4 separate regions of the Homo sapiens genome follow, and regions 1, 2 and 3 are each linked to region 4. The links come from fine-mapping of genetic effects on gene expression. A gene starts in region 4. Each other region holds a variant in brackets. All regions are shown on one strand. Distances are from middle to middle.

What was found. PIP is the estimated chance that this variant, and not a neighbour inherited with it, causes the effect. A credible set is the group of variants that fine-mapping cannot tell apart.
Region 1: its variant is the best candidate, but not a certain one, in a credible set for the expression of GYG1 in whole blood (INTERVAL, PIP 0.87).
Region 2: its variant is the best candidate, but not a certain one, in a credible set for the expression of GYG1 in esophagus muscle (GTEx, PIP 0.59).
Region 3: its variant is the best candidate, but not a certain one, in a credible set for the expression of GYG1 in non-classical monocytes (Schmiedel 2018, PIP 0.90).

The regions. Positions count from the first base shown.
Region 1 is chr3:149,151,832-149,156,831 of GRCh38, reverse strand. HPS3 (HPS3 biogenesis of lysosomal organelles complex 2 subunit 1) reads right to left here. Exons shown (of 17, transcript NM_032383.5): 7 at 3,184-3,338; 8 at 1,617-1,725. Among named protein-coding and RNA genes, the nearest start is that of HPS3, 25 kb to the right of the region's middle. The variant T/C (reference allele first, on the strand shown) is at 2,632.
Region 2 is chr3:148,958,506-148,964,090 of GRCh38, reverse strand. No RefSeq gene overlaps it. Among named protein-coding and RNA genes, the nearest start is that of GYG1, 30 kb to the left of the region's middle. The variant T/G (reference allele first, on the strand shown) is at 2,549.
Region 3 is chr3:149,199,392-149,204,976 of GRCh38, reverse strand. It overlaps CP (ceruloplasmin), which reads left to right. Exons shown (of 19, transcript NM_000096.4): 7 at 2,736-2,875; 8 at 5,113-5,265. Among named protein-coding and RNA genes, the nearest start is that of CP, 20 kb to the left of the region's middle. RefSeq lists an enhancer at 5,531-5,585. The variant AG/G (reference allele first, on the strand shown) is at 2,371.
Region 4 is chr3:148,989,035-148,994,576 of GRCh38, reverse strand. GYG1 (glycogenin 1) reads right to left here and starts at 3,037. Exons shown (of 8, transcript NM_004130.4): 1 at 2,930-3,037; 2 at 300-435. The coding sequence starts at 2,936. RefSeq lists silencers at 2,021-2,315, 2,349-3,398.

The DNA.
Region 1 (5,000 bases), 160 kb before region 4:
GTCAAATCACCTAAACGAAGACTTTCAATTAAGCAAGACTGAAAAGACAGGGCACAGCTAATATAATAATTGGCATTAAATTATTGGCAGGGACAAATCAGGCAACACCTTGACCTGATGACCAAAAATTAACATCACCAAAGAGGGGTAGATGAACAGCATGTGCCTCCAGATGTGATACCCTTAACACAAAAATCACCTATGCAATATTCTGGCTGAAAATGCATAATCTGAATCTAACCATTAAAAAAAAAAAAGCAAACCCTAAATAAGGAATACTCTCAAAAAAAAAGTAGAGGGGAAAATTATATTTTTCAAAAATGCTCATGTCATAAAACATAATGAAAGGCTATAGAAATATTCCAGCTTCAAAGGAGGCTAAAGAGACATCATAGTTAAACACACTACCTGATCCTAGACTGGGTCTTGAACTGGAGAAGGGGAAATGCTATCAAGCCATTGGGTCAGTTGACAAAATTAGACTATGAACCATAAACCAGATAAAGCACTGTGTCAATGTTAAATTTATTAAAGCATACTACTGTATTCTGGTATGCAAGAGAGTATCCTTATTCTTAGAAAATATACGCTGAAGTACTTAGGGGCAAAAGACTGATGTATGCAGTTTACCTCCCGAAGAAGAATCAGAAAACAGTGTATGTATATCTGTGTGCACAGAAAGCACAGAGTGCATAAAAGAGAGAGAGAAGCAAATAGGGTAAAATGTTGACTGTGGAGAAATCTGTGTGGGGAATGGGAATATATAGAATATTCTTCTTTTTTAAAAAAGAGTCAAAAGAGTCAGGGTCTTGCTGTGTCACCCAAGCTGGAGTGCAGTGGTACGACCATAGCTCATTGTGGCCTTGAACTCCTGGGCTCAAGTGATCTTCCCATCTTAGCTTCCAAAGTAGCTAGGACTACAGGTATGTGCCACCACAACTGGCTAATTTTTTAATTTTTTGTACAGATGGGATCTCACTATGTTACCCAGGCTAGTCTCGAACTCCTGGCCTCAAGCAACTCACCTGCCTCAGCCTCCCAAAGGGTTGGGAAGAATATACTTATTCTTGCAACTTTTCTGTAAGTTTGAAATTGTTTCAAAATAAAGAGTTAAAATAATTGCCAGGGATGAGTAGGAAGCTGTCACTCTTAGATCAGTAAGGATGCTCCCTCTGGGTCCCTCCCCCCAGGACAATGCTGCAGTAGCTGTGGTGCCCTGGGACAATGTGCTAACATTTCTAAATAAGAAGAGTGGGACAGGGATACATAATCCTAGATTTATTTATTTATTTATTTATTTGCTCCATTTCTTAGCTATCTTTGCTAGAGTTCAAATTAAGGTCAAAGACTATGTTCAGATTGGCCAATCGATCTTCTTAGGAGAGTGGGTATGAATAAGGGAGTCTTATGCTAGTGAAGGGAATTTCTACTGGTTCCTCGGATGTCAGAAGCTGTAACAATGAGGAGGCAGAGAGAGATATACATTCCACTGTCAGACAGAGCCAGGAAGCTGAATGGCTGTGGCATCCTGAATGTATGATAATTAGAATCAATTTCTGATCATTAATTTCACTCTAAATATCTACAAACAAGAATCAGAAGTTTGAAAAGAGTACCATCTCTTTGTACAGCTGCACTGGTGAGATCGTATTCACAATATACAAATTCCACCCAGCCTCAGCTACAGGAGGTATTTTGATTTTAACACTGGTATCTTTTCTCGAACTAAAAGCAAAACAAAGGACAAGAATTTTAAAATGACATTATTAATAAATGGTAGTTGTAAATGGTAAATATTGGATATAAAATAACTATAAAATCATTTTCATTTACTATTTTCCTCAGTGATTAACTGTACACTCTATTTCTATGGAATATTAGTTCACAATACTACATAGGCTAACTGCATTTAATATTCTGTAATTTTCATGTAATGATAAACCAACTGCTTCCAATTCACTCTGCAAGTATTCTCAAATGAGCAGTAAGTTCAAAGAACAGGCAAGTCCCATCAAGAGGAAAAGATCCTTGACTGCGGAAGTCCCTATACCCAGGCTCTTTTCTGCATTTGACTTTCATGAGTCTAGCATGCCCTGAGCCACAAATCTAAGCAGAAGCAACATCATGGCTGCTGAGAATATGATGAAGACACATAAAACTGTTAAGTCTGCTTAAAGCACTATCTTATCTCTTGCTTTCACTATGTGATACATTTTCTTTAGTGTACAATCTTTTATAATTGTTTATCAAATGAATTTTCAAATGAATTAGAATTTTTAAAACATCATTTAAAAAATTATACTATTAGAATGTCAAATGTGCAAGACTACAAACTGCTTTTCCTCTCCCCAGAAAGCTTTTAGGATCAGTCAGCCCCAGACCACTCTGTGTACACTCAAAGTGATCAGTTACCAAAGTCAACCTCTGATTCCTGTTGATGCAACAAAGCACAGCCACTAACAATTTGAAAAAGTAAAAATCTATGTTAAAAATAACCCATGTTTGATATGAAATACACTATATGCTTCACTCCCTGAAGAGATTTCTTTCTTGATTAAATTTTCCTTAGAGAAATTAGATTGCATTCTCTACCACTAAGTAGGAAAACATCAAATAGAAGCATAACTAGTC[T/C]GGAATTAAGCATTCTATTCTAAACAATGGGAAAGCAGAAACCTAATAAATAACAAGAGATGAATGTTATCAAAATACAACTTTATTTTCAGATACATGAGCACATATCTATAGATCATAAATGTGCTTTAAGGTAAGACATACATTATTAATTTCTTTCATAATATCAGAAAATAATTTTAGATAAAAATGTAACAACTGAAAGGGTCAAAGAAGAAAGACAGTAAAAAGTCCTGTAGTTTCAATTAGCATTATAGGCTCAGTCTTTCTCATTAATTACACAGAAAAGCATGGCCTTTAACTAATCTAAAACACCTTTGATTTTTACTGAAACTATTTTATAATCCATTTTCTCCTAAAAGTTTCCAGGTCAGTTATAAAGTGTATTACAGAGATTGTTAGAACCTTCTTTTCTTTCTCTGGAAAAAGACCACCATAAAAAAGCCATTTGATCATTCCAAGTTATGATTTGAAAAAAGATAAACACAAAATATACCAGTTACAACTCATTCCAGAAACTGGCAGGAATGCCTGGGGCAAGGGGATGCTTACAGAAGCCTCTTGGGTGACTGTCTTCTCTCTGGAATGGCTTCAGGTTCTGCTTTAGTCAAAAGTATGATGTGGTTTTTAAAGTGACAGATGGCTTTCAAGCCTATGAAAAGCTGTATTCTTAAAGCACAGACATCCATACTGACAGGTGGGCAAGCCTAGTAAAGGAAAATCACATATTTAAGCAAGAAATAAAGGTACATGCACTTCAATCTTCAAAAATCAGTCAGTTTATTTGATCAAATCTCTTCTGCTGCCACCATCCCATACCCACCACCACCAAAAAACAAACAAACAAACAAAAGACCAACCCAGATTCCTATTCTTAACAGAAGAGGTTATCTAAACCTATGTAACCAATAGTGTATTCCATAGAGCTACTCAGCCAACAAACTCAGTTATTGATTGATTGAATAAATACGGAAAGAGGGTCCCACAGCTGCAGGAACTTGTGTGTGTGCCCCACAGAGTGGCTCCACAGATACCTCCAGGAGATGAAGCTGGTACTCTGCCACCCAGGGAAACCCCCACAACTAGCAGGATGGTTGGGGGTACGCCCAAATGGGGTTTTTAGGAAAAACCAGACACTATGAAAGGACATTCTACTGCTTGTAGAGTACATAAAATGGTTTCTTTGCGGATGTGTGTGTGAAAGAAATGCTTGTATGTTCCGATGGCCCCTGACTGTTAGTCTGTTAGGTACGAATAGTGCCTGGAATGGCGGACAGGCTGGGACATGTCAGGTAAACTAGAGGAGCCAGCCTTTTGCTCTTGTAAAGGACCATTAATTCAAGTAGAATGAATAAGAAAACTAATGGAAGAGCTCTATTCTGGGAGCTCACAAAATGATGCTGCCAGGACCCTGCCTTCTTGTCCATGCATGCTGTTTTGATTCTGAGGTCATCTTCATTGTTACCTCCATGTAAAAATAGTTAAGGTGGCTTGGTTAGTGCTGAGGAGTCAGAATCTCAGAGGAAAAGGAGACAGACCACAAGCACTTTCAACCAGACTCTTGAGGTTGTGAAACTTTTTTCAGACATCACAGCTCCAAAGCCTGAGTCAGCAGGTGGGCTAAACGTGTGCTTGTTTAACTGGCACCTAGGGCTTCAGAACTGGTGGAGTCCCAGGAAAGGAGGAACCGTGAGGTGTGATTATGCCTTCCCCCTCCTACCTCCACTGGCCTCAAGGGCAGCATACCTCCACCAGATGCCCACCTCTCCTTATCCCTCCCCTTTGTCTCTTCCTTGTTCCTTCATTCTGCCTTTTATAAGACTCTGAAAATACATGGAATTATTTTTTTTCCAAAGGTACATTGATCCTACTTCAATCTATTAGGTACTTTAAATTACACCATCACCCCTATATAAGCCTATGTCTTTCTGAGGTTTGAAAACGCAAGGAGGGGAAAGAAGAGGACAAAGAATGGAAGTTTTATTTTTTTAATCTGTTACTTTTCTATTTTTACAAAGGAAATAATCCTGATTTTAAAGTAATCTCTCAAAAAGGCCATGTGTGTATCTTATACAAACAAAGGCACAGGAAATCTGTGGTTCTGGTTTCCCAAGAGGCTGACAGCAGGCAGTAAGCCTGGTCAGCAACAGAAAACCACAGGCAGGCCATTAAAAAGGGTCACTAGGAACTCAGAGACCATGCTTGCCATAAAACACTATCATATGACACAGTTTGGGTGACAGTGACCGTGAAAGAGTATCTCAGACACATTAGGCACTAAGTCGGGGCTGGCTTGTTAAGATAACCACCATTACTGAAGGCTTATCCTTCTGGAAAAAGGTATTCCAGTTTCCAGACAGATATAAACC
Region 2 (5,585 bases), 31 kb after region 4:
GTATATTAAACAGTACATTTTGTGTGTGTGTGTGTGTGTGTGTGTGTGTGTGTGTGTGTGTGTGTGACTTAGTGCTCCAACTGTTAAAGAAAGGGGATAGTCTGTTTCTGGCTGGGTCACACAGTGTAGGCTAACATGTGTCTTAGTCTGGGCTTCAAGGTTGAGAGTGATTACACAGAGTATGGCACAATGCGGGGAGGCCACTGGAGTTGGAAAGGTGGGAATGGATCATAGGGTGATGAGATTTGGTCCAGATTGAGGCGGGGGTGGGCTAAAGAGCTTCTGCTTTATCCTACAGCTAATGCTAAGCCATTTTTATGCAGGGAAAGAAAAGATGTGATAAAAGCAATGCTCTAGGAAGATTAATCTGGAAGCTTAGTAAAGTAATTGGAGCAGTTGAAGATGCAAGAGGCTGGAAAGCCAGTTAGGAGGCTCATGAATAATCTGGATATAAAGTGACTGGAGGCTGATTTAAGTTGAGAGAGGAAGGGGAAGTAGGGAAGGGATGATTTTAGAGAATCATTGTTTAGAAAAGATAAGCAAATGTAGCTGGATGAAAGAAAGGTGGAAGGAGTAAAAGATACTGTAGTTTACCTGCAGTTTCCAACCTGGAGGGGAATAAGAACTGGGAGACATGCCTTGCCTCCCATCCCACCTTGCTCACTTTTCTCCAGCCACACAGGTCTCCTTGCTATTCCTTAAGCAAAGCAAGCATCACCCCTACTCAAGGCCTTTGCACCTGTCAATTCCTCTGTTCTGAACATTCTTCCTCCAGAGACCCACCTCCCTTGCTTCTTCACTTTCAGCCCCTACCTGGCCCTCTCCACTCATTTATGCCTGTAAAAATGGGCATTTTCAATTAATACACTATATTTCAAAATGTTACTTTTCCTAAAAATTCTTGCAGGTTCATAGAGATAGGGAGCTTAAGCTATAGAGATGGCTAAAATGTACCCTGGTTAGAAAGACTTCCCTGACTATATCCTTCCTGACGATATATCATATATTAAGTCATTTTTTTCTGACTAGCATGTAAGGGTGTATGGACAAGACTTTGTCCTTTTTAATGGCTTTATCCTCAGCACCTAATACAGTGCCTGGCACATAGTAAATTATCAATAAATATGTGTTAGTTAAATTAGTGAAACAGGCAAATTCAAAAAAGAGGCTAATTTGGGAATTGAGGGGGAAGATTATGAGTTAGCTTTAAATTCACATCATCCTAAAAGACAACATTTTTTGATATTGGCAAGAGGTCAAGGCTAGGAGTGCAGCTTTGTGCCTTCACAGGTCTAACTTCTTTATGAGCATCAGCACAGCCTCTTGTGGACAGCGCCCCTCCCTGGGGGTTATCTCAGTGTTTTTCCTCTTGCATTAGGAGTCCTTTTCTTTCCCTGTGTGACTCATCTCCTCCTGGGTAGAGGAGGGGAGGACAGCCTTGGGATAAGGGGAAGTATCAAGAAGCTGCTGAGCCTATGAGAGGACAACCCAGAAACCACATTTCCTCTCTTAAGCTCCCCATCATATAACTAGTCAATGCTTTCTAGACACTCCAGATATAATTATTGGGATGATACACTACAAACTTTTCAAAATGTATTTGACATAGCCTGTAATAATCCAAATGAGAACAGAGACAACAAGAAGGCACACCTGTAGCTCATTTGTTTCCGCTGTTTCAATTGCTCTAATTCCCCTTTTCCAGTAGCCCATTAGGATCACCTGCCAAATTGACTTATTTAATGAAATTTCTGATGTACATTCATGTGTTTTCTAAAATAATCTCTTTAAGAAAGCACATTTTTCCTTCTCAAATGCAGTTCTGCCTTTTCTTGATAGGAACCCCATTCTAACATCACTACTGACTGTATTGAAATGAATGAATACATTATAAAGCACTTTATCTTTATTGCTGCCTGAAGTGGAGAATATAATTGCCAGCTGTGTATCCCAGGCACATAATTCCATTACTAGGTTCTTACGGAGCCATCAGTCCCATGGATGGTCCTTTGCTTGACAAACCAGCCCATCAAATTCCAAATCTGCCTTAATGGCAAATGCCACCTCTCGATCAGGTCACTGCTCCAGCCTGAATTCAGCAAATGTTACCAGAATACTTACCCTGGGGTACCCACGCTGCTCTTAGTTACGGGGTGCCTATCTTGCTCTTAGTTCTGCTCAAAAAAGCTTGTCATGCTTGAGGTCACAGCTTTTGGTCAAGGGTCCTTCCAGGATGAAGCTGATCTACGTTTTCTTGGACTGTCCACAAACATCCTTAACAGGTGCTAACTCTATTTTTAAATACTCTAGCAATATTTGTATGGGGAGCAGGGGCCAGCCACTATTCGGAAGTGGGCTGGTGAGGATTTTGATAGTGTTTTGGCTTTTTTGTGTTGGCTGGGTGGTGACACAGTTTCTTCAGATATCTTTAAATATATCATAGTCTACCAAATAAAGATTAGTTGAGGTGTGTGGGTTGGGGAGAAAGTGGTTAAGAAAACTTTTCTGCCAGCATACAAACTACCCTGGCTTCATACTTTGCTCTAAA[T/G]TTCTGTGTAATCCCAGGGTTTTAGAGGTAAACCTGTACGGATCTCCTATCTTACACAAGAGGGATGAGCACTCACATTTACTGAGGCCACATGAGGGCTTGGCGCAGTTGGGAGCTTTTCATTTACTCTCTCAGTTGGCTGATGAGGAAACTGCTGGTACTTTTGTCCTAGCACACAAAGAATATAACCATCCTGAAGGAAAGAGAGTTTTGATTAAAGAGGGGAGGGTGAGAGAAGGAGTAACACTGGGGCAGGGCAGAGGATGGTATGCATGGATGGGTTTGCTGGAAGGAGAGGAGGACTCAGGAGACCCGGTGGTAGGAGGGTGATATGAAGAGGAGGGTGGCCCAGGATACACTGAGCACACTTTTGCACGTTAGTGGAAGACACTGGAAGTACAATGTCTGATACAATTTCTGGGCTGCCTTTGCCACAATATTCCAGGTTGCTGATATCTGCTTTCAAGGTAAGTTTGTCTGATTAGAATCTAGAGAAGTGTTTGAGAAAGCAAAGAGGGGTGAAAATGTTATTACTATTATTTTAGTGGTGGTAATCATTACCACCTGCTGAAAGCTTAATATGTGCTACAAACTGCTATGTGTATGATGTATCTTACATAAGTTAATTTTTACGAAAAACTTGGAGGTTGGTGTTCTTATGCTTATTTTAGAGGTGGATGAACTTTCTTGGCCAGATTCTCACAGCAAATGGGAGATCTGGGATTTGAATGCAGATTTGTCTAGCTCCCAAATTTATGTGATGGAATATCAAATAAATAACTTAATCTCTACTCATAAAACATGGATTCCATATCCCTTTTAGAACCATTTTTATGTGATTCAAGCCAATCCAGAGCATAACAACACTAGAAGATATAATAGCAGTAAGATAAACTGCCTCTTTAGCTATTTCCAAATTCATGGTCTCAATTAAGCCTTTTTCACATGTGCTGGCCCTTGTAATTCCTGATGTACTTTTCCTAATTCCAAATGTCTGGTAACAATTTATGATGTATAATTAAATGGGCTACCCTCCTTTTATCACGCCTTCTAGATATAGTCCCATCACATGAAACAAAGCGAAGCAAAACACTTCTTTGATTTAATGTTGACAGTCTCACATTCTCATTCTTATTAAGCTAATAACATTTAAAGATGATACTGAGGCTCTTTAATAATCCAGCAAGAAGAAAAATACAATTAGGCAATGATATGGTTTGGCTGTGCCCCCATTCAAATCTTGTCTTGAATTCCCAAGTGGGAAGGGAACCTGTGGAACTTGTGGGAGGGACCTGGTGAGAGGTAATTGAATCATGGGGGCAAGTCTTTCCTGTGCTGTTTTCGTGATACTGAATAAGTCTCACGAGATCTGATGGATTTAAAAAGAGGAGTTCCCCTGCATAAGCTCTCTTTGCCTGCTGCCATCCATGTAAGACATGACTTGTTCTTCCTTGCCTTCCACCATAATTGTGAGGCTTCCCCAGCCATGTGGAACTGTAAGTCCAATTAAACCTCTTTCTTTTGTAAATTGCCCAGTCTTGGGTATGTCTTTATCAGCAGTGTGAAAACAGACTAATACAGGCAATATCAGGGCAAATAAATACATCTTGGGAAGTGGTAGAAAGGGGAGGAGAAAAGAGATCAGGATTGAGTAAATGCCATGACTAACTAGGTGGGGCAGATTTTACCCGCATGAAGAGAGGTGCAAGGGCCCATGTTTATCTGAAACCCACCTGCTCAGTGGAAACCCTCCAAAATTTATTCCCATGTAACAATGGGCATTCTTAACAAGAGGCATAAGGCTATATCATGTTGGTTAGAAATCCTAAAGAAGAGTGATGCTGTGAGGAAGTAGGGTAACAAGCTGGTTTCTGGGTCTGGTCAGCCTTCTCTGTGAGGGGCCCTGAGGATATTGGTGGACGTGTTCAGGAATAAGAGGGTTCTGGGGCTGAGAGAAGAAAGGGAGCACAAAGGAAACAGCTAAGACTTTATTTCCGTGGGCTTTCTTGAAGGTCAGTCTGGGTAGAGTTCCAGAGATAAGCTCACTTTTGCTCTACCTTCAACTTAGAAAATTAAGAAAATGCCAGTCACCATGGAGGCCTCTGGGAAATGCCATGCTTCCCTATGAAGGCAGCTTACCTCTGCCCTGGAGGACTCTACTTCTATAGTTTTTCTTTTTTCTTTTTTTTTTTGAGACTGAGTCTCGCTCCATCACGCAGGCTGGAGTGCAGTGGCAGTGTCGGCTCACTGCAACCTCTGCCTCCCGCCTCCCGGGTTCAAGCAATTCTCCTGCCTCAGCCTCCCAAGTAGCTGGGATTACAGGAGCGTGCCACCATGCCCAGCTAATTTTTGTATTTTTAGTAGACACAGGGTTTTGCCATGTTGTCCACTCTCGAACTCCTGACCTCAGGTGATCTGCTCACCTTGGCATCCCAAAGTTCTGGGATTACAGGCATGAGCCACTGTGCCCAGCCTGCTTCTACACTTCTTAAGGAAGAGGTTGCTTGTTTGTTTATGTATATCTATTTATGTATTGATATCTTCTACACTCCTTATTTACTAGGAAAAACTCAGTTTTCTTGGTATGTAACTGGAAAGTGTGCAACGGGGAAAATGTGGCTGTTTATAGCCCTCTGACCTTGAACATGTTACCAAAGCAATTTGTGTTTCAGCTGCTTCCTGTATGAAGTGGATCTCATAGGCAAATATAGAAATGATACATTCTTCATTGAGAAACATCACATCACTGTCCTCTTATGTAGATGAAAGTATTTTTACCATATGGCTCCTCCTTTCATTGTTAACAACCTGCTCCATCAGGAGAGAGATAATGAATGCAAAGAAAAAATACTTTTTCCACTCTAAAAGTCCATTCAGATTCAAAAGTCCTTACAAATACCTGTGTTAGAGGAAGAAACATCCACATCCCCATGCTGCATTTGGAGTGTGTTTTCTGTTTGTTCTGTTCTCAGTAGGGAGAACCGCTTATTACTGTCCTAGGCATGAGCCTTTTATATACTTGAAAACCGTCGCTAGC
Region 3 (5,585 bases), 210 kb before region 4:
AGGATATTAATTCCTTATCAGTTATTTGCAAATATTTTCTGGCATTCTATAGGTTGTCTTTCACTTTCTTGATAGTGTCCTTTGATGTACACAAGCTACTCTTTGTACATGTCTGAATGACTTCCACAGCCTCCCAGTCATTCTTTCTGTTTGTCTTCCTTTTCTACTATCGATTTTTTACAAAGCAGTACTGTGATCTTTCAAAAATGTCAATGAGATGATGCCACTCCCCTGCTCCAAGTCTTTACTCATATATCACTTCCTCAGAGAAGCCCTGTTTGCCATCCATATTAAAAATACCCTCCTTGGAAAGGTTAAGTAATTCATCCAACATCACACAATAAATGGATAGCTAGGACTTGCTCAGCCCAGACCTGTGACTCCTGAAGCAGAGATTTAAGTCCCATGCTACACTGACACCTACATGTGATTACTCCCAACGCTGCGTCTCCAACTCAGGAGGATCTAGTGAATTTCAGATTGCATTTCAAACTTCTTAGTGACACCCCCACATGGATGAGGCTATTCAAACTCCTCTCCTCATCAAGTACTGCCTTGTTTTATAGAAACTATCTCTGAAGGCTGTCTACTTCTCTCCATCTTCTTTGCCAATACCTATGAACTCATCTCTGCCTCTCACTGAGATTAGAAAAGCAGGCTCCTGACTGGTCTCCCTACTGCAGTCTTGTATTTTCCAACACATTCTCCAAACATCTGCCAGAGGGATCCTCCTAAAATGCTAATCCTGAATGCTTAAATCTTTCAAATGCTTCTCACTGCCCTGGGATGGAAGGCTGAAACCTTAACTAGGTCCTACTGCTTATCTCCCATCTATCTAAGCCTCATTCTTCACTCCTCTGCCCTGTCTTGCATGCTATGCTTCTGCCATATTTTCTAGAACATGGCATGCTCGCTCTTTTCTCTAAGCCTGCTCATAAGCAGTTTCCTCTTTGTATACACCTGCCCTAGTCTCTGCGCTACACACACACTTCATCTTGCTAACTCTACTTCCCCTTTAGGTAGTTTTGAGTAATCACTTCCTCTGGAATGTCTTTGTGGCCTCTTCACTGCACTTTCCCCAACCTCAAAGAAATGCTCCATAATACCCTGTGCTTATTACACTGTATTATATTGATGGGTTCATGGCCTGTCTTCTCTGCCAGATGTAAGGTCCACGTGGACAAGGAAGAGTCCACCTTGCTTATGGTTAAGTCATCAACACATAGCAGGATTCCCAGCAAAGAGCAGGTGTTTGATGCATTTGTCAAGTGAAAGAAATGATGAATGAGGTGGCTTTGCGCAAGTCAAATAATTACCTTTCTGAAATTTAATTTCTTCGTTTGCAAAATAGGGAGAATAATACCAACTTTGTTGCGATGTCATGTGAGTTTCAGCTAATAAACAAAAGCTCCTGGCCAAGCGCCGTGGCTCATGCCTGTAATCCCAGCACTTTGGGAGGCCAAAGCGGGTGGATCACTTGAGGCCAGGAGTGCGAGACCAGCCTGGCCAACATACCAAAGCCCCGTCTCTATTAAAAACCAAAAAATTAGCTGAGCATGGTGGCATATGCCTGTAATCCCAGTTATTCAGGAGGCTGAGGTATGAGAATCACTTGAACCAGAGAGGCAGAGTTTGCAGTGAGCCAAGATCACACCACGGCACTCCAGCTTGGGCAAGAGAGCGAGACTCTGCTCCAAAAACAAAAAATAAATAAATAAAAGCTCCCGAGCAGCTGGCCAGTGCTAATACACAATAAAGAGTAGCCACTGGGGCCGGGCGCAGTGGCTTACGCCTGTAATCTCAGTACTTTGCAAAGCCGAGACGGGCGGATCACTGAGGTCAGGAGATCGAGACCATCCTGGCTAACACGGTGAAACCCCGTCTCTACTAAAAATACAAAAAATTAGCCGGGCGTTGTGGCGGGCGCCTGTAGTCCCAGCTACTCGGGAGGCTGAGGCAGGAGAATTGCTTGAACCTGAGAGGTGGAGGTTGCAGTGAGCTGAGATGGCACCACTGCACTCCAGCCTGGGCAACAGAGTGAGACTCCACCTGAAAAAAAAAAAAAAAAGGCCAGGCATGGTGGCTCATGCCTGTAATCCCAGCACTTTGGGAGGCCGAGGCGGGCAGATCATGAGGTCAGGAGATCGAGACCATCCTGGCTAACATGTTGAAACCCTGTCTCTACTAAAGAAATACAAAAAATTAGCCAGGCATGGTGGCAGGCGCCTGTAGTCCCAGCTACTCGGGAGGCTGAGGCAGGAGAATGGCGTGAACCCAGGAGGCAAAGCTTGCAGTGAGCTGATATGTGCCACTGCACTCCAGCCTGGGTGACAGAGCGAGACTCCATGTCAAAAAAAAAAAAAAAAAAAA[AG/G]ACAAACAACAACAACAACAACAAAAAACTAGCCACTGTGTTTTTAAACATTTCACAATTTGATAAAAAGATTCTATGGTAGAATCCTTTGTCAAGGGGTTGAAGGGGCCCTTCTGAAAATTTTCTCTTCACTTGAAAAAATAAACATCCTCCATGATTCTCTACTTCTTAACTGACCATCCTTCTATGAGTGGACTGGAACTGTCTGCTTTGTTTGAGTAACTGGTACGGATTGCTATAAATCATGGATAATATTCATCTCTAAGCACTGGTCAGAATTTTTCTCTTCAATTAGCACCTTAAGTGAATACCTGCTTTCTGTTCTACTTCAACCCCAGCATTAAACACTTTTTTCCCCCTGCAGTGACTCAGCGGTGTTTTTTGAACAAGGTACCACAAGAATTGGAGGCTCTTATAAAAAGCTGGTTTATCGTGAGTACACAGATGCCTCCTTCACAAATCGAAAGGAGAGAGGCCCTGAAGAAGAGCATCTTGGCATCCTGGGTGAGTTCTTGCAGAATATATATGGCTGGTTTACTCTTCCCATGGGCTACATCAACCTCAGAAAGAATAGTAACTTCAGGACCTACTGCATGATTTCTATGTGTTAAGTAGGCGTGTGGAAGATAAAACAATAAAATGCAGCAGCTAAGTACTTTTCCAAATGTAAATTACCAATGGTAAATTTTCATCATTAAAAGCCCTGCTGACGGCCGGGAGTGGTAGCTCACCCCTGTAATCTCAGCACTTTGGGAGGCTGAGGCGGGCAGATCACTTGGGTAAGGAGTTTGAGACCAGCTTGGACAACATGGTGAAACCCCATCTTTACTAAAAATACAAAAATTAGCAGGGCGTGGTGGCACGTACCTGTAATCCCAGTTTCTTGTGCCTCGATGCTGAGGCATGAGAATCGCTTGAACCCGGGAGGCGGAGGTTGCAGTGAGTCAAGATCGTGCCACTGCACTCCAGCCTGGGAGACAGAGCGAGACTACATCTCAAAAAACAAAACAAACAAACAAACAAAAACCCATGCTGACCTGACTTCAAATGGTTATTTTTTTCTTCAAAGAGGTAAGGGGAATTGTGTGTTGTGTGTTTATGTGACTTGGTTTAAATAGATAACTAAGTTGTGAGCCTCTGCACTTAGTTAAAGATGTGTTCCCTTAGAAATAAAACCCAGGCTAGGGCCAGGCGTGGTGGCTCACGCCTGTAATCTCAGCACTTTGGGAGGCCGAGGCGGGCGGATCACGAGGTCAGGAGATCGAGACCATCCTGGCTAACACGGTGAAACCAGTCTCTACTAAAAATACAAAAAAAATTAGCCGGGCGTGGTGGCGGGTGCCTGTCCTAGTTACTCTGGAGGCTGAGGCAGGAGAATGGCGTGAACTCGGGAGGCGGAGCTTACAGTGAGCTGAGATCTTGCCACTGCACTCCAGCCTGGGTGACAGAGCGAGACTCCGTCTCAAAATCAATCAATCAATCAATCAATCAATCAATCCCAGGCTACTAATGAAACAAGCAGGATCTGTCCTAGAGCCCTCCGCAGGCTGCCCCCAGCCAGAGTCCAGAGACCTGTTCTCGCCAAGGCACGCAGGCAGAATAACAGTGGGTGAGCAAACAGAGTATGGATTCAGATTGTCCTGGTTCTTCACTTTTTTTTTTCCTAGCGGTGACTCAGAGGTATAATACTTTTTGAACAAGGTATTACAAGAATTGGAGGCCCTTATAAAAAGCTGTTTTTTTGTGAGTACACAGTGCATACATTAGCTGTGTGACCTTTGAAAGTTACTCAACTTGGCTGGGCGCGGTGGCTCATGCCTGTATTCCCAGCATTTTGGGAGGCCGAGGCAGGCAGATCACTTAGGTCAGGAGTTCGAGACTAGCCTGGTCAACATGGCGAAACCCCATCTCTACTAAAAAAAAAAAAAGTACAAAAATGAGAATGGCGTGGTGGCGAGTGCCTGTAATCCCAGCTACTGGGAGGCTGCGACAGAAGAATCACTTGAACCTGGGAGGCAGAGGTTGCAGTTAGCCAAGATCATGCCACTGCACTCCAGCCTAGGCAACAGAATGAGACTCCATCTCAAAAAAAGAAAAAGAAAAAAAGAAAATACTCACTGTCTGTCCCTGCTCCCTTCTGTAAAATGGGAACAATAGTTATTAAAGTTGGTATAGGGATTAAATCAGTTAATAGACATACACTCAGAAGAACAGATAGGAAACTCTCTATAAATGTCATTTTGTATATTACATAAAATATTTATGTAAAATATATATTTTTATTCTATAATTGGTAATCATTAATTTTGGTCATGGAAAATCCAAAACAGTGTTATCCTTCACATCCAAAACAATTCAACTTATCTGCTTTGGGTGGTCAGAGTTTATAGCACCTAACTCTTGGGACAAATGACACACCTCCAGCCAACAGAAGATTAGGCTGAGGAGTCTCAACATTCTGAATAGTTTTTGTAGATGTGTAAAGCTTACTAACTGACTTGTACAAAAATGATAATCAATTTCATTAATCTGAAGTTGAATTAAAAAGCCCTTCTCTCCTTCCAACCTCGACATATCAGATTGATTATGGACTTCTCAAAAACCAAGCTTTCCATTCACCACAAATAAGCGTGTTGCTCCTAGTAGTTCTTGCCAGAGAACACAGTCAAAGAAGATAACTATCTTATACATTCTGCATGTTACATACCAAGGAAGGATAATAATTCTCTCTTTGTTCCCAGGTCCTGTCATTTGGGCAGAGGTGGGAGACACCATCAGAGTAACCTTCCATAACAAAGGAGCATATCCCCTCAGTATTGAGCCGATTGGGGTGAGATTCAATAAGAACAACGAGGGCACATACTATTCCCCAAATTACAACCCCCAGAGCAGAAGTGAGTATACAGCACTGTGTAACAAATCAACAATGTTTAATAACCCACTGTACTGGTCACTGACAGTATGCTGCAAAAACTGAAGGCAGGAACTCCCAAGGAAACCGCTCATATATCATTTCTAGGCATCATGCCAGGAAACAAATAAACCCCTTCTCCTACCTCCAATTGGTTTACGGAATTTTGTCCTGCCTTAATTGGATGATTATTGACAATCCTGATAGTAATTTAGTTGGGTTGTATCAATTATACATTTCTGGAGTACCTTGGGTGATTTTTAATTTTTAAAAAAGTTCTTATAAGAATGTTCGATGTTCACT
Region 4 (5,542 bases):
CTCCTTCAGATCACCCAGAGGGGATGGAGTGAAGGAAGACGACTCCTTCTTTCCCCTCCTAGTTGGAACCAGAAAGTGTGGGCCAGCATAACACCTTCCAGAAAAGAATTGAGTTGGAATATCTCCCAAAAGCTAGGAGGAGGTTTCAAATACAGCAATCCTGCACTCAGCATCTCTCATTTTTCTCTACCCGGTGCTCAATTCCTGAAAAGAGCATGGCCTCAATGTCCAATGATGTCAGCAACAGGGAGAAGGATGTCAGAGCCCCTTGGATGCTGGGGTGGCAGCGAGGTCCTCACCTCATGGAGTCTGAGACCTGAGGGGTGGCGAGCACGACCAGCCTCCTGGTGGTCCTGTGCTGTTTCAGAGATGATCCCAGGACCAGGGCACCTTTGGCGTAGGCATCGTTTGTGGTTAGTGTCACAAAGGCCTGATCTTAATACAAAGAAAAAAAAAACACTCATTACAGTATCTTATCTGGAGAAAGCCTTTTCCCCAGGAACCCATTCAAACAGTAATTCAGCAAAACCAGTTCCTCTAACATCAACTTTCTCTATGAATCAAGCTGTAGCCCTTTGGGGAGAAAACCCCAAGTGCCCACTTCAAGAATGGTTCAAGATCATAGCAGGCACATATGGCAACCTTCAACAGGTTGATTAAGCTATAGAAATTAAATCCGACACGCTAAATTCTCAGACAAAACAATAGCTTAATACCAAGAGTTTGAACTCCAGGCAACTAACAGATGGTAATGAAGAGATCAAGTAGTACATTTGCTGTTTCTTCTACAAGGTACTGTAGACAGTGTTTTCAGACAAGCACAAAACCAACCGTCAAACTCAATTCAGTCAGTCTGAAAGCAGAGTCCATATTCTTCATTCTGGTGCTTACGTTTATGCCATGCCTCAGGAATGTATGTATGTATGTATTTTTTAAGACAGGGTCTCACTCGGCCACCCAGGCTGGAGTGGAGTGGTGTGATCATAGCTCACTGCAGCCTCGAACTCCAGGCATCTTATACATAACTGTTTCCTCAACGTGGAGCAAAAGCTCCCCTGCCCCAATATCCCTGAAAAATAACATTGAGTCTCTCCTCAAGTATCAGCTCCTCAAAGAGGCTTTCCCTCCTTGATGCTTCTATCTAAATAGTTATCAATCACTGATAAATAGATTTGGAGATCACCCAAGAAGCCCTAAACAACTGCCTGCTTTTCTTTGGAGAAGAAGGTGCAGGTCCATCCTGCACCCTCCCCCTCCCCCCGCCCAAACCAACAGACACGCACCCCAATCTCCAATAATCACTTAGTTGCCAGAAGAGAAGGTAAATACATGGATTTTTCCTCCTGCTGAACAGTCCCCACCCTCCCAAGACCCCTAGCACAGGCTTCAAGATTTCTCCAGTCATTCCCTGGGACAATTCTGGGCCATGTTCCATCTCCAAGAAACATTAGCAAGTTGGTGGGCATCCAAATGCATAGGACACTTCGGATCAAGTTCTGGTAGGAGTCAGTTGCTTAACCAGCGAGTTGGGACATTTTGTCATGAAGTCCTTCTCTTTCTGACCTGGCTTTCCCTCATTCTCCCTTGCCCGTTTTCCAAGGTGGAGGCTGGAAGCAGTAGAAATTCCACCGAGACATGAGAGGAAGTTGTGGGTTGCCTAGTGGGCCAGCGCATCCCTCGGCTGCTGACCTGAGAGCCATCTTCACACATTTTATTAGGCCCTCTCCCACGGCAGGCCAACTACTAAGTTGTAGGAAGACCAGTTCCCCACCCCCGAAGGGCCACCAGCTTCCCAGTCACTCACACTCTAGGAAAGCTCTGAACAGTGGCACCTGTCCCTTGACAGGCCCATCAACATCCGCCTGTACTTGCTTCTATTATCTTCAGCCCATTATAACATGGGTAACATCGCTGTCAATCTGTACCAAAAATACTTAAGCTAGGCAAAATGAATGATCATCTAACTCAAATGAAGTCCAGGTTCCAGGCGATCATGGAGAAAAATGTAATAAGGTGAGCAGGATTCAAGGATTTCTGGAAGCAAGGATATGGATGATTTCCAAGATTAAATAAGGGATAGAACACAGGTTAGAACACCAGACTAGCCAACATTACAAATGACCAAGAAAGACCAATGACAGCTGGGTAGGAGTTTAATCTTCCTAAAGACGGCTGAACTCTGGGTTACACCTGCAATCTTTGTGGCAGTTCAACTGCTGTAATAACCCTGGCTATTAGCCTCAATGACACGGAAGGACCAGCTAACTCGGAGCTTCCCAGTGCTGGGGCTAACTCGTGGAGTGGCCCGGACGCCTCGCAACAAGTGAAGCCAAAGCCGGCGCCCTCCCACCAGACGGGGCTCGCGCCCGGGGACGCTAGTCCGACTCCCGGCTTCCCGCAACCCGGCCCCAAAGGCCTAAAAATAGGCTCAGCGTGGCGGCCGGGGCCGGGGCGGGCGGCGGAGGAGCCGGGCGGAGGCCGCAGTATCCCCGCCTCGGAGCCCCTGCTTCCTGGGGTTCCGGGCCGCCAGAGGCCGGGGCAGCTCCCCACGATGCCGCTGCGCCCCGGACTCCCGCCTGGAACCCCCAGGGGAACCGGCTCCCCACCCCCACACGGCCCCGCCGCAGCTGCTCCGCCCGCCGGCCCTTCGCCGTGAGAGCAAGAGGAAGGACGAGGAGACGGAAGCAGGAACGAGAGCTCCGGCCGAGGGCCCGGGCTCTGCCCGGCTGCCCCATCCCTGCACTCTGGGGGGCGGCGGGGCGGCAGCTGACGCAGGCAGAAACACGCCCGGCTGCGGCCAGCCAGCAACTTTGCGGCGGTTTCGTCCTGCCGGGAACACTCCGGGGCTGAGGGCGGAGGAGAAGGGAGGCGGCGGCTGGGCAGGAAGCCGGGGTCCCGGGGCTGGCGGCGGCGGGCTGCGCGGCGGTACCTGTCATGGTGCTGCCGGGTGCGCAGGCGGCCGGGGCAGCCTCAGGTTGGTGACTCAGAGAAGCCGGCACCGGGAGGGAGCGCGGCCAGCGAGGAGGCACGGCGGGGAACCGAGCGTCTGCCCCGTGCGCTCTTATAGCGGCCGTCACGTGGCCGCGCACGCTCTCGCTGCCGTCCGCATCCTCCCAGCTGCGCGGCCGGCAGGGGCGGTGGCCCGCGGGGCTCCGGGTCCCGCGTCTCCCTCGGCTCCTCCTCCCTCCCTCGGGGCTAGGCTGCCGCTGCGGCTGCGGCTCACCGGCGCCCCTGCTCCTACTTCCCCGGGGCGCCTGCCCTTGTCAACCGCGCGCCCCCTGTCGCCGCTAAACCTGGGAGTTAAGGGGGACTTTGGGGCTGAGTGCGGCATCAAACTCCCCAAGAAGCCAAGGGTTAGGGAACCTTAAAAAACAAGCAAACAAACCCCAGATTACTCTAGTTAAAATCGTGAGTCTGAACTGCTTGAATGAAACGTAAAATTTACGCTTTTTTTGCAGAATTTCGATCAGCCTCTATAATCATTCCTTAGTGTACTCACAATGGTTTTGTACCCTTAACCTAAAAAATATAGTGAATATTTCGTAAATGTTAAATTCTTGGAGCCATCTGCATCAATTAGGCATTTAAGTGCTTCATTTAATCCTTGTACGAACTCAGTGAGGTGTTACATATTCATTTTACAGACGAGGAGGAAACTGAGCTCAGAAAAGTTAAATTAACTTTTCTTTTCTTTTTTTTCTTGTATTTTTAGTAGAGACAGAGTTTCACCATGTTGGCCAGCCTGGTCTGGAACTCCTGGCCTCAAGTGATCTGCCAGCCTTAGCCTCCCAAAGTGCTAACTTTTCTATAGTCATATAATATAAATGGAGAAAGTAGGATTTAAACCCTGGCAGTTTGGTTACAGAATCAACCTTCCCACCCAGAAAGTCTTGGTGCCTCTTGTACACAGGGGCTCCAAAAAGGTTAGTAAATTATTGTAACTGTGGTTAGCCAATGCTAACCTGTTTCACAAATCTTGAAATGGTCAATTTGTCATTTTTCTAGGAAGTTGAGAAATAGCTTTAATGTGATCACATCCTTCTCTGCTCCCCATCCCCAGTCCAAACACAGAACAAGCCTCGGGTAGTTCAGTTCTCTGCAAACTGAAAACTGAAATTGCTCGGTAAATGTTGAATGAGTACTGCAAAGCCATTTGGAAACCAATCAGGAAGTTGACATCAGTTCAAAAAGCAAAACAGATGCTTAAGAATAAGTGATTTATTTGCAAAGGTGGTACTGCTGTCCTCAAACCAGTTATATCACTGTTTCCTCGTGTGTGGGTGTGGATCTCCTACATCAGAATCACTTGGGGGCACTGGTTAAAGCGTAGATTTTTGGGCCTAAGCCCAGACCTCCTGAATCAGAATCTTAAGGGTAGGTTTATTTTGGTGCAAAATAATTTTGAAATCCATGCATTTTTTTTTTATAATATGTATATTCTATGGACTTTTTGAAGTCGCGTCATATACTCTTGAGGTAATGAAATACTCTGTAGGCATAATCATTATATATTTTTAATATAAAAAGCTGTTCAAAATATATTATTTGAAGAAAAACAGGTTACAAAACAAAAAGAATCTTAAGGGTAGAACCTTAAAATCAGTATTTTAAATATCACCTTCCAGGAGCCTCTCTTGAGTCCTTCCTAGTCTTGACCATGGCCTAGAGACCGCTGATCACATGGGAGGCCCTCCCAGTTACTTGGCATTATGTGCTTCCGTTGTAGGAAACAGAAAAGTGGAAAGGGCAATAGATGGGTTTCCACTTATTCAAAAGATATAGACATAGAAGAGTTGGAGCTCTTTAAGGAACACAAAGGCTACACTTTTGTATCTTAAGTGGGGAGAGGGAAAACAAAGAGAGGTACTTCTCAGTCTGATTGCTCTTTTGCAGACTGAGAGGTGAACTTGGAAGAGTGAGATTTCCATCTTTCACCCAGAACCCTCCTGCCATCAGCTGACCCTTAACCATCTACTTCTTGCAGCCTACTATCTCAGGCTGGACTTAGCCAGGGATGTGGTGATGGGGCTGAAAGGGCAAAGCCAGGAGGTAGAACTGGGGACAACTGGGAAAAACAGAAAAGCTTCCCTTAGAACAAGCTCCTCTCTGCTGCAACTCCCAGGACGTTTAAGTAAAAGGAACGGTTACCACAGCTTCCCTTCCTGAGCTTCATGTATATTTACACAAATAGAAAGTTTACAGCTTTTACCACTTTGAATCAAATAGGGACATTTTGAGGTTGCTACAATCTGTTCTTCTTCATTGTCTTAATATAGATCATAATGACCCCACTGCCTACTTTTCCTGAGGCTGCCCTGCAGTGAGCTTCAGTCTGGTGTGAGAGCAAGACCTCTCAAACTTTAATGCGCACACAGATTGCCCAAGGATCTTATTAAAATGCGGATTCTGACTCAGTAGTTTGGGGGTGGGTCTCCCAGGTGATCCCCAGGCTATGGACCCACACTTTGAATAGTGAGGTGTTCAAACATTTTGGATTGTAAGGCCTTAGAGGTAGTGGATAAACATGGTATAGTGAGGCAAA